3 linked regions of the Homo sapiens genome follow. The protein of the gene in region 3 interacts with the protein of the main gene of each other region in a biochemical or structural test. Each region holds a gene or a part of one and is shown on either strand. Other genes may lie near its edges.

Region 1 (3,648 bases), on a different chromosome or scaffold from region 3:
ACACAGCGAGCCGGGGATTAATATGCAAATGGATCTCATGTTTCCAGAATCCCAGGCCAGTCTCCTTCTGCTGCATAGTACAGAAGGTGATGCCATCCCAATATATTAGACATGGAATGGCAGGCTTACAGGCGGAAAGTTCACTTCCAACAAGGACTCCAAAATGTAATGCACAATGTGAGCGGTGTGAAAGTGTGCCTTAAAAGTTGGGATGAGTCTTGATAAGAGTCCCTGAAGCCTGTGGATTGGCAACATCTGCCTTTACATAGTTTTGAGATGACCCTGAGTAGCAGCACCGTGGAGTAGAGAGGGGACCAAGGAGGGCCAGGTGCCCTGAGCTCTGCTCCTCTTTCAGAGGCCTTCAGGCCTTGGGCAAGTAGCTTCTCCTCTCAGAGCCTGGTTTCTTCATCTGCTAAAGGCAGGGACATTAACACCTGTCCTGCCCCATCTCCCAGAGTTGGGATCAAGCTTTATGAACTTAAAGGACTGTGCATAGTAAGGGCTCTCAATTCTTATTTTAAAATTGTAATCACCTAAGGATCTATTTTTTTAAGATAAGATAGCAAATATTCTCCTTTCTTTTTTCATTAAAAAAGAAAAAAAAGAGAGCCTTACTCTTGGGTGAGGTCAAAATGTTTGTAGGTAAAATATATTCTACTACAATCTAATTCCACAGTCTGGAGATAACACCTGACCCCTTTTTTTACAATTTGATCGTCAGAAGCCTGGTATCCACCGCTTCTAACCACCTGTTTAGAGAATGCTAGGCTAGGCCAAGCACAGTGGCTGATGCCTATAATCCCAGCACTTTGGGAGGCCAAGGCAGGAGGATCATTTGAGCATAGGAATTTGAGACCAGCCTGGGCGGCAACATAGGGAGACCCTGTCTCTACAAAAAAAAAAAAAAAAAAAAAAAAAATAGCTGGGTGTGGTGGGGCATGCCTGTGGTCCCAGCTACTCAGGAGGCTGAGGTGGAACGATCACTCGAGCCCAGAAAGTGGAGGTTGCAGTGAGCCATGATCACGCCACTGCACTCCAGCCTGGGTGATAGAGCGAGACCCTGTCTCAAAATAAAATTTTAAAAAAGAGAATGCTAGGCTAACAAATGGATGCTCTGGTCTCCAAAGACCCAGCCAAGGCGCTCCTGAGTCTGGTAAAGCATCCCACCTAAAACTAAATCTCCTTCAAAGGGAAAAAGTTAGGAATAGAAGAGCTACAGCCAGCTGTCCACACGTTGGGGTAAAGCAATGGAATTTGTTTCTGAGGGAATACCATTTTAGAAAGAACACTAAGACCACACTTCCTGTTATTTTCCCAAAAGGCCATCTTAATCTAGGATGGCAGGGCTAAAAGGGACATTGATAACATCCAGTTAAAATGCCATACTCACAGATGAAGGGACCAGGGCCCAGAGAGGGGAAGGGATCTGTTCAGGTCACACAGCAAGTTACAGTCAGGCAGAGGACAGCTGGGACCCTCATCCCTCCTTCTACAACACACACTAAGTCACAGAGCACCACTAATAGGTCATAGACAAATGAGGTAAAGAGTCACAGCTGACACGAGCCCTTTCGAAATTGCAAACATGCCGTTCTGTGATCTCCCTGGAAGAGAATAATTACAAAAAGACTTCTCATGGAACAATTCATTTCAAAAGTATAAAAAAGCCACATGCAAATCCGTTTCTCACTGTTTGCCCTGCTAAAAACTACATCTGCATACAGATCTAGTTTGCATCTAATTTTTAAAAACACACAAAAGGGGTCATCTACACACACAGGTTTTCCAACTCTTCATGAAGCACAAAGATCCGTTATTTGACTTTTCCATCATCCCATGATCAATGTTTCTAAGACCCTAGGAAGAAAAGGAGAGAAAGAATTAGAGAACGTAAGCCTGCTCCGTTACAATCAACTATGTGTTACATGGAAGGTGGGGGAAATGATCCTTCACTTCGAATCTCTCCCCAGCAGGAAATGGTGCCAGTGGAGAGTGAAGGGCCCTGTGGAGTCCCAAGAAGTACTTTTAAGACCAAAAGGTGGACGTTTCAAAGCAGCAGACTCCAGCTTAATAAGATCTTTTCAACCATTGGAAAATCCACAGATGGCTCTCAGTGGTAGTGAGCTCTGTATCCCTGGAGGTATGTAAGCCAGAGCTGGCAATACTGTGTGTCACAGAAGGAACTCAAGACCTAGGCAGCAGTGATGCTCTTAAAATTCCACAATTTTTCATGGTATCCTTTTGATGTATTCACAACCCAGAATCATTTCTGCCTCAAAATATACGTGTATTTGAAAATTATAGATATATATATTTAAAACTGGAAACATATCTATATAAAACAAGTCACATATCATCAGGAAGACAATTTTAAGACCCAATCTCCTAACTCTTTGTTGAATTCCTATTTCACAGTTTTACATTTTCATATTTTTCTCCCCATTTCTAGGGCCTCTAACTACTCACGTACACCCATCCTTCAATCCTCATGCCACCTCCTCGATGATTCTTCCTTCATTTTCCCCAGTTCTAAGCTGCTTTTCATGCCTTAATATCTCCTCCCATTCCCTTACATCGCACTCCTTGTATTATAATTATGTCCACTTTTTGTTTTTCTGTGATCCCCTACAGACCAGAAGTAAGGCCTTGCACACAGAAGGTGTGCAACAGTAGTGGCTGAAAGAATAATATAACTAAAACCATGGCAAAATCCCCCTGCTTTTGAGAAACCCTATCAGACTTGTTTCTAATTTTTCCTGTTCTATTAAGCACCTGTTGATCAGCCTTGGTAATGGTGCCTGTTCACCACTGCTCCCCCATTCCTGTAAGAGGATCGTGCAGGCCAGGCACGGTGGCTCACGCCTGTAATCCCAGTACTTTGGGATGCCAAGGCGGGCGGATCATGAAGTCGGGAGATCAAGACCATCCTGGCTAACACGGTGAAACCCCGTCTCTACTAAAAATACAAAAAAATTAGCCAGGTGTGGTGGCGGGTGCCTGTAGTCCCAGCTACTCGGGAGGCTGAGGCAGGAGAGTGGCGTGAACCCAGGAGGCAGAGCTTGCAGTGAGCCGAGATCGCACCACTGCACTCCAGCCTGGGTGACAGAGTGAGACTCTGTCTCAAAAAAAAAAAAAAAAAATGATTGGTCTGTAAATGGGCGGGGCACACATCACATCCGAGCAGAAACTTTAAATGCAATGGTGTGTGCAGCCTGGCCACAGAACGGACATGTTCCACACTGGAGCTGTTCCTCCAGCTGGGTCCTGAATGAGGGGACACATGGGGCAGGGCCACAGCCAGCTCACAGCTATAACATGGAACATGAGCAAGTGATCAACGTCTGTGGCTGTGAACCAGCAAGATTTTGGGATTTTTATGAGCAAAAGCTGGCTTATAAAGTGATCCCTTTCCCGAATTCCCAGTTCACCTGTAGGCAAGGAACAGATGCAACCCCAGCTGTCACCTGTGTGACTACAGACTAGGAGGCCTTGACCAGAGGGGATGCAGAGATTCTCTCTGCCCCTACCCACAAGGAGATGTGTTGCAAAGCAGCACACAGTGCTGAGGACAGGAAGGCAAGGCCTGAGCCCCAGGAAGGAAGCTCAGGTGTCCTGAACAAGGAAGAGCTCCAGGAACACACAAAGGAA
Region 2 (3,648 bases), on a different chromosome or scaffold from region 3:
CAGAAGGACATCAGCCTGGACACTGCAGCGGTCCTGCCCAACCAGGAGCCAGGACTGGACATCTCATGACAAGATGCCTTCAGTCCTGCTGTGGTTAGGCAGGCGGCAGAAATTAGTATGAGGAACCCAGGACAACAGGGCAGCCAAGTTGGATTCAGGGCTCTCTGAGGTAACAGGAGGGCCCACAGCCACAGTGACTGCCCGTGGGGCTGGTGAGAAGTTGGGGGCACAGTTGGGCCCGGAAGGCTGGAGGGGAACACACACTGGGCAGGCCTGCACTCTCTTTGGACACACAGCAGTAGGAGAACAGACCTCCTCTCGTCCCCAAGAGCAGGCTGGGCTCTATGTGGGGCCAGAGAAAAGGCCTCCCGGCCTGAGGCCAAGGGACACTTGGCCACTGACGAGAAGGGGACAGGGTCACTCACTTGAAGGCACCAGAGTAGCTGAAGTACGGTTCCTGGGAGGAGAAGGCACATTTGTTTTCCCCTGTCCCCGCACACAGGCGACACAGGTTGGGGAACTGTCCTTTATCTGCACCGGGAACACAGCTGGCTGAGAAGAACCTGGCCACAGCTGTTAAACACAGAGAAGTGGACCACAGAGTGTGAGCCAGCCCTGGTCACAGCAGGTTACACCTCCCATCCTGAGGTCTCCGTGGGCAAGGCCCCTTCCTCCACCCCTGCAGGAGAGACTCTGTCATGGGGCTGGGAGCTCGAGACATGCACCTCTGCCGAGAGCAGACTCAGCTGTGCCTCCCAAGGGCTGCTAGGGTAACGGATCCTGCCAGCAGGATGTTACAAGCTGGCCAGCCTCACCCCCACCTTGATTCATCCCACACTTTCACCTGCATGATCTGTGTGGCCTGTGCTTACAACTGGAATAGAGCCCCCTGCCTGAGGCCACTCACTATCCCCCAGCCATCTTACCTGCCTCAATGGGCTCAGGTGGACCCGTCCAATTCAAGAATGGACGAAGTGTCCCTATAGGGACATTCCATCCAGCGGTCCTGCGAAGGCCTGTGTGGCAGGACTTCAGACCTTGCAGTTCGTTCAGCTGAAAGCTGCCGCCCTTCTTCACCACAGCCACGGCATAATAGTGAGTTCGTGGCTCTGCAAAGGGGCAGACAGAATTGAAAGTTCTTAGCCTGGACAAGAGGGACAAAAACAACCCATCCTGAAAAGTCTCCGGTGGGAAGGGGGAATGCTGTGCTGCAGTTTCCTCACAGCTCACGTGTGTCCTCCTCTCGTGGGTCAGCGTCAGGAGGAACGGCCTTCATCTGGCCCAGAGCCCAGCGACTCCATTCCCTACATGTGTGATGTGACCCAGACTCCACCTCCACATGTTCCCCCAGTCTTAATCCACACAGCTCAGGGCACAGGCTGAGGCCACCGTGGCCTCTGGGTCCCCAGGCAGAACTCACGTCTTTCGGTCCCGTAGACTTCCGCCGCTACAGGTCGCAGTTTGTAGGGGGCCAGGCCTGCCTCGTATATGAAACCACCATCAAGGGTCACAGCATCGGCCCTGTTTTCCTGAAAGTAAAGAGGCCAGACTGGCTTCAGCAGAAAACTCACCCAAACCCAGCAAGTGGGACTTCAGGACCTCAAAAAGTCTCCATGGCTGGAAGGGTCGTCAAAGGGGTCCGCTTTCCATCCTGTCCCCTCACTTCCTATGAGAGATGGTGAGAGCCAAGGACCCCTGTTTTGGGACAGTGAGCACCAGCCCTCTAAGTCCTGAGACTGGCGCCTGCCCTCTTTCTCCTCTGCCTGCCTGTGTCACTCTCCCGATCACACCCCTCACAGTCATCTATATTTGAAGTCGTTTGTTCTAGATACTTTCTATTTTTGCTCTATATTCATTTCTTTTAAGTTCTGTTTTATTGGATAGAAAATATAGTTATTAAGCTATCCTAAAATTTTCATAAGAAACCATGTTCCTCCGCTTCAGCACATTGCTTCCCACATGATTACATATTTCTTTGGTTTGCAATGTGGGATAGTTTAGTGGTCCCCAACTTTTTTGCCACCAAGGACCAGTTTCAGGGAATGTAATTTTTCCACAGACAGATGGGGAATGGTTTTGGGATGAAACCGTTCCACCTCTGATCATCAGGCATTGGATTCTCATAGGGAGTGCAACCTAGATCCCTCGCATGCACAGTTCACACTAGGGTTCACACTCCTATGAGAATCTAATGCCGCCGCTGATCTGACAGGAGGTGGAGCTCAGGCAGTCATGCTCACTGGCCCTCTGCTCACCTCCTGGTCTGAGGTCTAGTTCCTAACAGGCCATCAACCGGTACCAGTCCGTGGCCAGGTGGTGGGGACCCCTGGGATACATCATATTTTGTGGACTGCTTATTCCTCTAAAACTGGATACATTTTCTAACTTCTGCAGAGCCTTTACTGATTTTGTAGACAGCATAATGTTTTCTCATAATGTGGGTGTTCTATCGTGTATTGAATAATTTCCCCCAATGTTTAGCATTTAAGTTTATTTCTAACTGTTTCCTGTGAAGACTGTATTTTCATGAATATCTTTGTCCTCAGTGTTTTTCCTTGTGACCACTTGTGTCCTTGGGTAGGCAGCTGAGGGTGGAATCCCCCAGATGAGGAGCACGTTTCCCCCTGTGACCCGGGCTGCCGTTGCCATTCTGCTTCCAGAAGACTTATAATACCAATTCAGAATGGCGCTGACCGTGAGGACCAGCTTCACTCTTGAATCACCAGCAGGGCAGGCTATCATTCTATTAGCTGTTATTACTATAGAAAATGTGAGTACTAACAAATCGCTCAGGTCTGATTAGTAAGGGGAACATCTCACAAGTATTTTTTATTAATTATGAATTCCCTCTTACTGGTAACTCTGTTCATATCATTTTTCTTCTATGATTCTACATTTTTTCCAATTTGGGTTATTCTTTTATTTATTTATTTTTTCGAGCGGAGTCACCCAGGCTGGAGTGCAGTGGTACCATCTCAGCTCACTGCAACCTCCACCTCCCGGGTTAAAGCGATTCTCTTGCCTCAGCCTCCTGAGTAGCTGGGACTACAGGCGTGTGCCACCATGCCTGGCTAATTTTTTTTTTTTTGTATGTTTAGTAGAGATGGGGTTTCACCATCTTAGCCAGGATGGTCTTGATCTCCTGACCTCGTGATCCACCTGCCTTGACCTCCCAAAGTGCTGGGATTACAGATGTGAGCCACCACGCCCGGCCTTGAGTTATTCTTTTATAGAGTGTAAATAGTAATCATGTGTCAGAGCTGGCGCATATTCATTCATTCCAGTCCTTTCTAATTTTTTTATTTAAATATTTTCTATGGGCTATGAATTACATTTTCTGTATTTTAGAATATCTGTTTGTTTCGTGATTTAGATCATCATTTAAGAGATTTCTATTTCCTCTACAGTTCTGCTAGTTAACCTGCCCCCTAGTTTTTCAATAATACAAGTTTTATTTTTAACCATTTAATCTATCTCAACTTTATTTGAATGAATGGTATGTAGTACTGATTTCAAACAGGGATCTTATTTTCCGAGATCAGACGAGATCAGACGCGTTCAGCGTGGTATGGCCTTGGACAGGATCTTATTTTAAAAGGCAGATTTTGTGGCTTCTTTCACATATATTCAGATTGAGTAGGTTAGAAT
Region 3 (3,748 bases):
CGCCTGCAATGGCAACTTCAGATCCCCGGTGGCACCGTAGTCTTAGAGCCACCGGTTCTGAGCGGGGAGGACGACGGGGTTGGGGCGGAGGAAGGAGAGGGAGAAGGAGATGGGGATTTGCTGACGCAGACCCAAGCCCAAACGCCGACTCCAGCACCCGCTTGGCCGGCGCCCCCAGCCACACCGCGCTTCCTGGCCCTCGCAAATGGCTCCCTGTTGGTGCCCCTCCTGAGTGCCAAGGAGGCGGGCGTCTACACTTGCCGTGCACACAATGAGCTGGGCGCCAACTCTACGTCAATACGCGTGGCGGTGGCAGCAACCGGGCCCCCAAAACACGCGCCTGGCGCCGGGGGAGAACCCGACGGACAGGCCCCGACCTCTGAGCGCAAGTCCACAGCCAAGGGCCGGGGCAACAGCGTCCTGCCTTCCAAACCCGAGGGCAAAATCAAAGGCCAAGGCCTGGCCAAGGTCAGCATTCTCGGGGAGACCGAGACGGAGCCGGAGGAGGACACAAGTGAGGGAGAGGAGGCCGAAGACCAGATCCTCGCGGACCCGGCGGAGGAGCAGCGCTGTGGCAACGGGGACCCCTCTCGGTACGTTTCTAACCACGCGTTCAACCAGAGCGCAGAGCTCAAGCCGCACGTCTTCGAGCTGGGCGTCATCGCGCTGGATGTGGCGGAGCGCGAGGCGCGGGTGCAGCTGACTCCGCTGGCTGCGCGCTGGGGCCCTGGGCCCGGCGGGGCTGGCGGAGCCCCGCGACCCGGGCGGCGACCCCTGCGCCTACTCTATCTGTGTCCAGCGGGGGGCGGCGCGGCAGTGCAGTGGTCCCGCGTAGAGGAAGGCGTCAACGCCTACTGGTTCCGCGGCCTGCGGCCGGGTACCAACTACTCCGTGTGCCTGGCGCTGGCGGGCGAAGCCTGCCACGTGCAAGTGGTGTTTTCCACCAAGAAGGAGCTCCCATCGCTGCTGGTCATAGTGGCAGTGAGCGTATTCCTCCTGGTGCTGGCCACAGTGCCCCTTCTGGGCGCCGCCTGCTGCCATCTGCTGGCTAAACACCCGGGCAAGCCCTACCGTCTGATCCTGCGGCCTCAGGCCCCTGACCCTATGGAGAAGCGCATCGCCGCAGACTTCGACCCGCGTGCTTCGTACCTCGAGTCCGAGAAAAGCTACCCGGCAGGCGGCGAGGCGGGCGGCGAGGAGCCAGAGGACGTGCAGGGGGAGGGCCTTGATGAAGACGCGGAGCAGGGAGACCCAAGTGGGGACCTGCAGAGAGAGGAGAGCCTGGCGGCCTGCTCACTGGTGGAGTCCCAGTCCAAGGCCAACCAAGAGGAGTTCGAGGCGGGCTCTGAGTACAGCGATCGGCTGCCCCTGGGCGCCGAGGCGGTCAACATCGCCCAGGAGATTAATGGCAACTACAGGCAGACGGCAGGCTGAACCTCCGCCCGTCCGGCCCGCCCATTCCCGACCTCCACCTAGGGTGCCTGGGAGCAGCAGTCTAGGGCTGGCAGGACTTATGTCCCCCGTCCCCAACCTTCACCTACTCCTCCCCCTTACTACTCCCCAACCTTGACTACCAGGGACTTCTATTAGGGAGTGGGCCGATTTCACCAGTCCCTGCTACCCACGGCTGCCATTCTCCCTGCGGGCTGAATCCCCTTCCCCGCCAAGCACAGTGTTTATCTTACCCCATGCAAGACTCCACCCGCAGACGGTGGGCGATATCTATGTCCCTCCATTCCCGTCGCGATTATCTGCGAAATCCACCCCGCAGCCCGCCCCACCGTGGGCTCTGGAGCCAGAGGAAACGAGCGAAGACTTTGGAAACCTCGCGGTAACGCGGTGGTTTCGGGGGCCAGCCAAGGCCAGTGGAGTGCTGTGGGGTCCCACCTCGACCCCTCCTCCTCCCTTTCTTTCTTTCCTTTTTTTTTATTTTTTAATTTTATTTATTTATTTATTTATTTTTTGACGGAGTCTTGGTCTGTCGCCAGGCTGGAGTGCAGTGGCGCGATCTCGGCTCACTGCATCTTCCGCCTCCCGGGTTCAAGCGATTCTCCTGCCTCAGCCTGCCTAGTAGCTGGGACTACAGGCGCGCGCCACCACGACCAGCTAATTTCTTCTATTTTTAGTAGAGACGGGGTTTCACCATGTTGGCCAGGATGGTCTGGATCTCTTGACCTCAGGTGATCCATCTGCCTCGGCCTCTCAAAGTGCTGGGATTACAGGCGTGAGGCACCGCGCCCGGCCCCTCCTCCCTTTCAATCCCTACTCCCAGAAGCCGGGATTCGTGGCAACCCCTAGTTTTTAGTTCCAAAGCCTCCTGCCGGCAGGGAACCAAATCCTTCTGTCCTCCCACCCCCACCCCACTTCTGGCCAGTTGGAGTCCAGCCCGGTGCCTGGGGCGCCTTTCAGCTCCGCGCTCAGATTTTCCTGTTTTCGTTGTTTTCAAAGACAGCGACATTTCGGGTCTGGTGCTAACACCCCCTTCCCAGCCTCTGGGAAAATCGAGTGTGTGTGTCGGGGGGTAGGGAGGGAATGCGTTTTCTGTCGTCTCTCTCCTAACTTAAAGCGCCGCAGGACCGCGCGCCCCTTGGCGGCTGAGCCTGTGGACTTGGTCGCGGGCCAATTTCGTTGTCCGTGTGTTGGGCTTTCCGGAGGTCTGTGCGCCCAACAGCGCCGCTCCCGCGGCTCCACCCGACCCAGACCCTAGCTGGAAAGCGCCGGAGGCGGAGGAAGCTGACTGTGGCCTCCCGGGCCGCGGCTCTCTGGAGGGCTCGCGCCCTAGTTCGCACAAAGCCTGCTCGTGACTGTGCGACTGTGCGACGGGATCCGGATGGAGCCGAGCCCCTCCGTCCTCGCGTCTCGGTCCTCGCGTCGCCCCGCCCCACCCGCCCCTGCTTCGGCGGGAATCGTGTTTGCCCGGCGTGTAGTCCCTGACAAGCGTGCCCTGTAGGAGAAAAGTCTGTGTCCTGTGAAGTGTGACCGTGTAGTGTAGGGGGGCGGGCGGGGGGGCGGATGGGCGGGGAGGGAGGGAAGGGGAGGGGCGCGGCGCGGCGACTCGGGGCGGGGTTCTTTTTTCCATTTTGAAAGAAAGCGTCGGGGTTGGGGTGGGGGGAGTTTCAGTCCTCGGGATCAGCCCTCTCCGCGAAGCGCAGCACAAGCGCGGGCCTGGGACGGAGTAGCCCCCCGGAGCCCGTGCCCTTTTCTAAACGCGTCTGTATGCAGTCAATAAAACAATCGATTTGAACTGGGCTCGGTGACTTTTTGTCAGGGGACAGAGGGAGGAGGCCTGGGCGATGAAGGAGGAAACCGCGGAAGGAAGGAGCCCCCCCAGAGCCTCCCGTTGGAATCTTTTGAGTGATTTCCTGTTTGCGTGACCATCCTGTGATTTTTTTGCCAGGTGTTTGCACCCAGCCCTGCTCTTAGTGTCTCCAACTCCAGGGTGGGGTGACAAAAAACGAGGGCAGGCTGCAAGTGAGTAGGGGGAGGTTGCAGGAAAGGAAGGCGGGTGTCTGCAGACCCTGAACACAGGGAGTCTGAGTGTGCGTGCAAGTATATTTGCACTCAAGGGTGTGCGGCACCCTCTTTCACTTGAGACTGTCTGTGTAGTGGGGTGTGGCTGTATATGGTGTCACACTGCCCAGTTTCTGTGTCTCCACATCAGCCTTTGAGTTCCCTGAGAAGCCGGTGGGAAGAGGATGGGATTCATAGGGACAAGACCGCTGTGGCTTGCACAAGAGAAGTCACAAAT

Evidence for each region.
Region 1: the proteins of ISLR2 (region 3) and IGFBPL1 interact in a biophysical measurement, tested with the Homo sapiens proteins (one large-scale study listed by IntAct).
Region 2: the proteins of ISLR2 (region 3) and LTF interact in a biophysical measurement, tested with the Homo sapiens proteins (one large-scale study listed by IntAct).

What each region holds. Positions count from the first base shown.
Region 1 is NC_000009.12:38,407,361-38,411,008, forward strand, and holds part of IGFBPL1 (insulin-like growth factor-binding protein-like 1 precursor), read right to left. Parts: intron 1,858-3,648; 3' UTR 1-1,857. UniProt on the Homo sapiens protein: IGF-binding proteins prolong the half-life of IGFs and have been shown to either inhibit or stimulate the growth promoting effects of the IGFs in cell culture. They alter the interaction of IGFs with their cell surface receptors.
Region 2 is NC_000003.12:46,454,870-46,458,517, forward strand, and holds part of LTF (lactotransferrin isoform 1 preproprotein), read right to left. Parts: intron 1,530-3,648; coding exon 1,421-1,529; intron 1,110-1,420; coding exon 927-1,109; intron 574-926; coding exon 426-573; intron 1-425. UniProt on the Homo sapiens protein: Transferrins are iron binding transport proteins which can bind two Fe(3+) ions in association with the binding of an anion, usually bicarbonate. Lactoferricin binds to the bacterial surface and is crucial for the bactericidal functions.
Region 3 is NC_000015.10:74,133,559-74,137,306, forward strand, and holds the end of ISLR2 (immunoglobulin superfamily containing leucine-rich repeat protein 2 precursor), read left to right. Parts: coding exon 1-1,434; 3' UTR 1,435-3,244; downstream 3,245-3,748. UniProt on the Homo sapiens protein: Required for axon extension during neural development.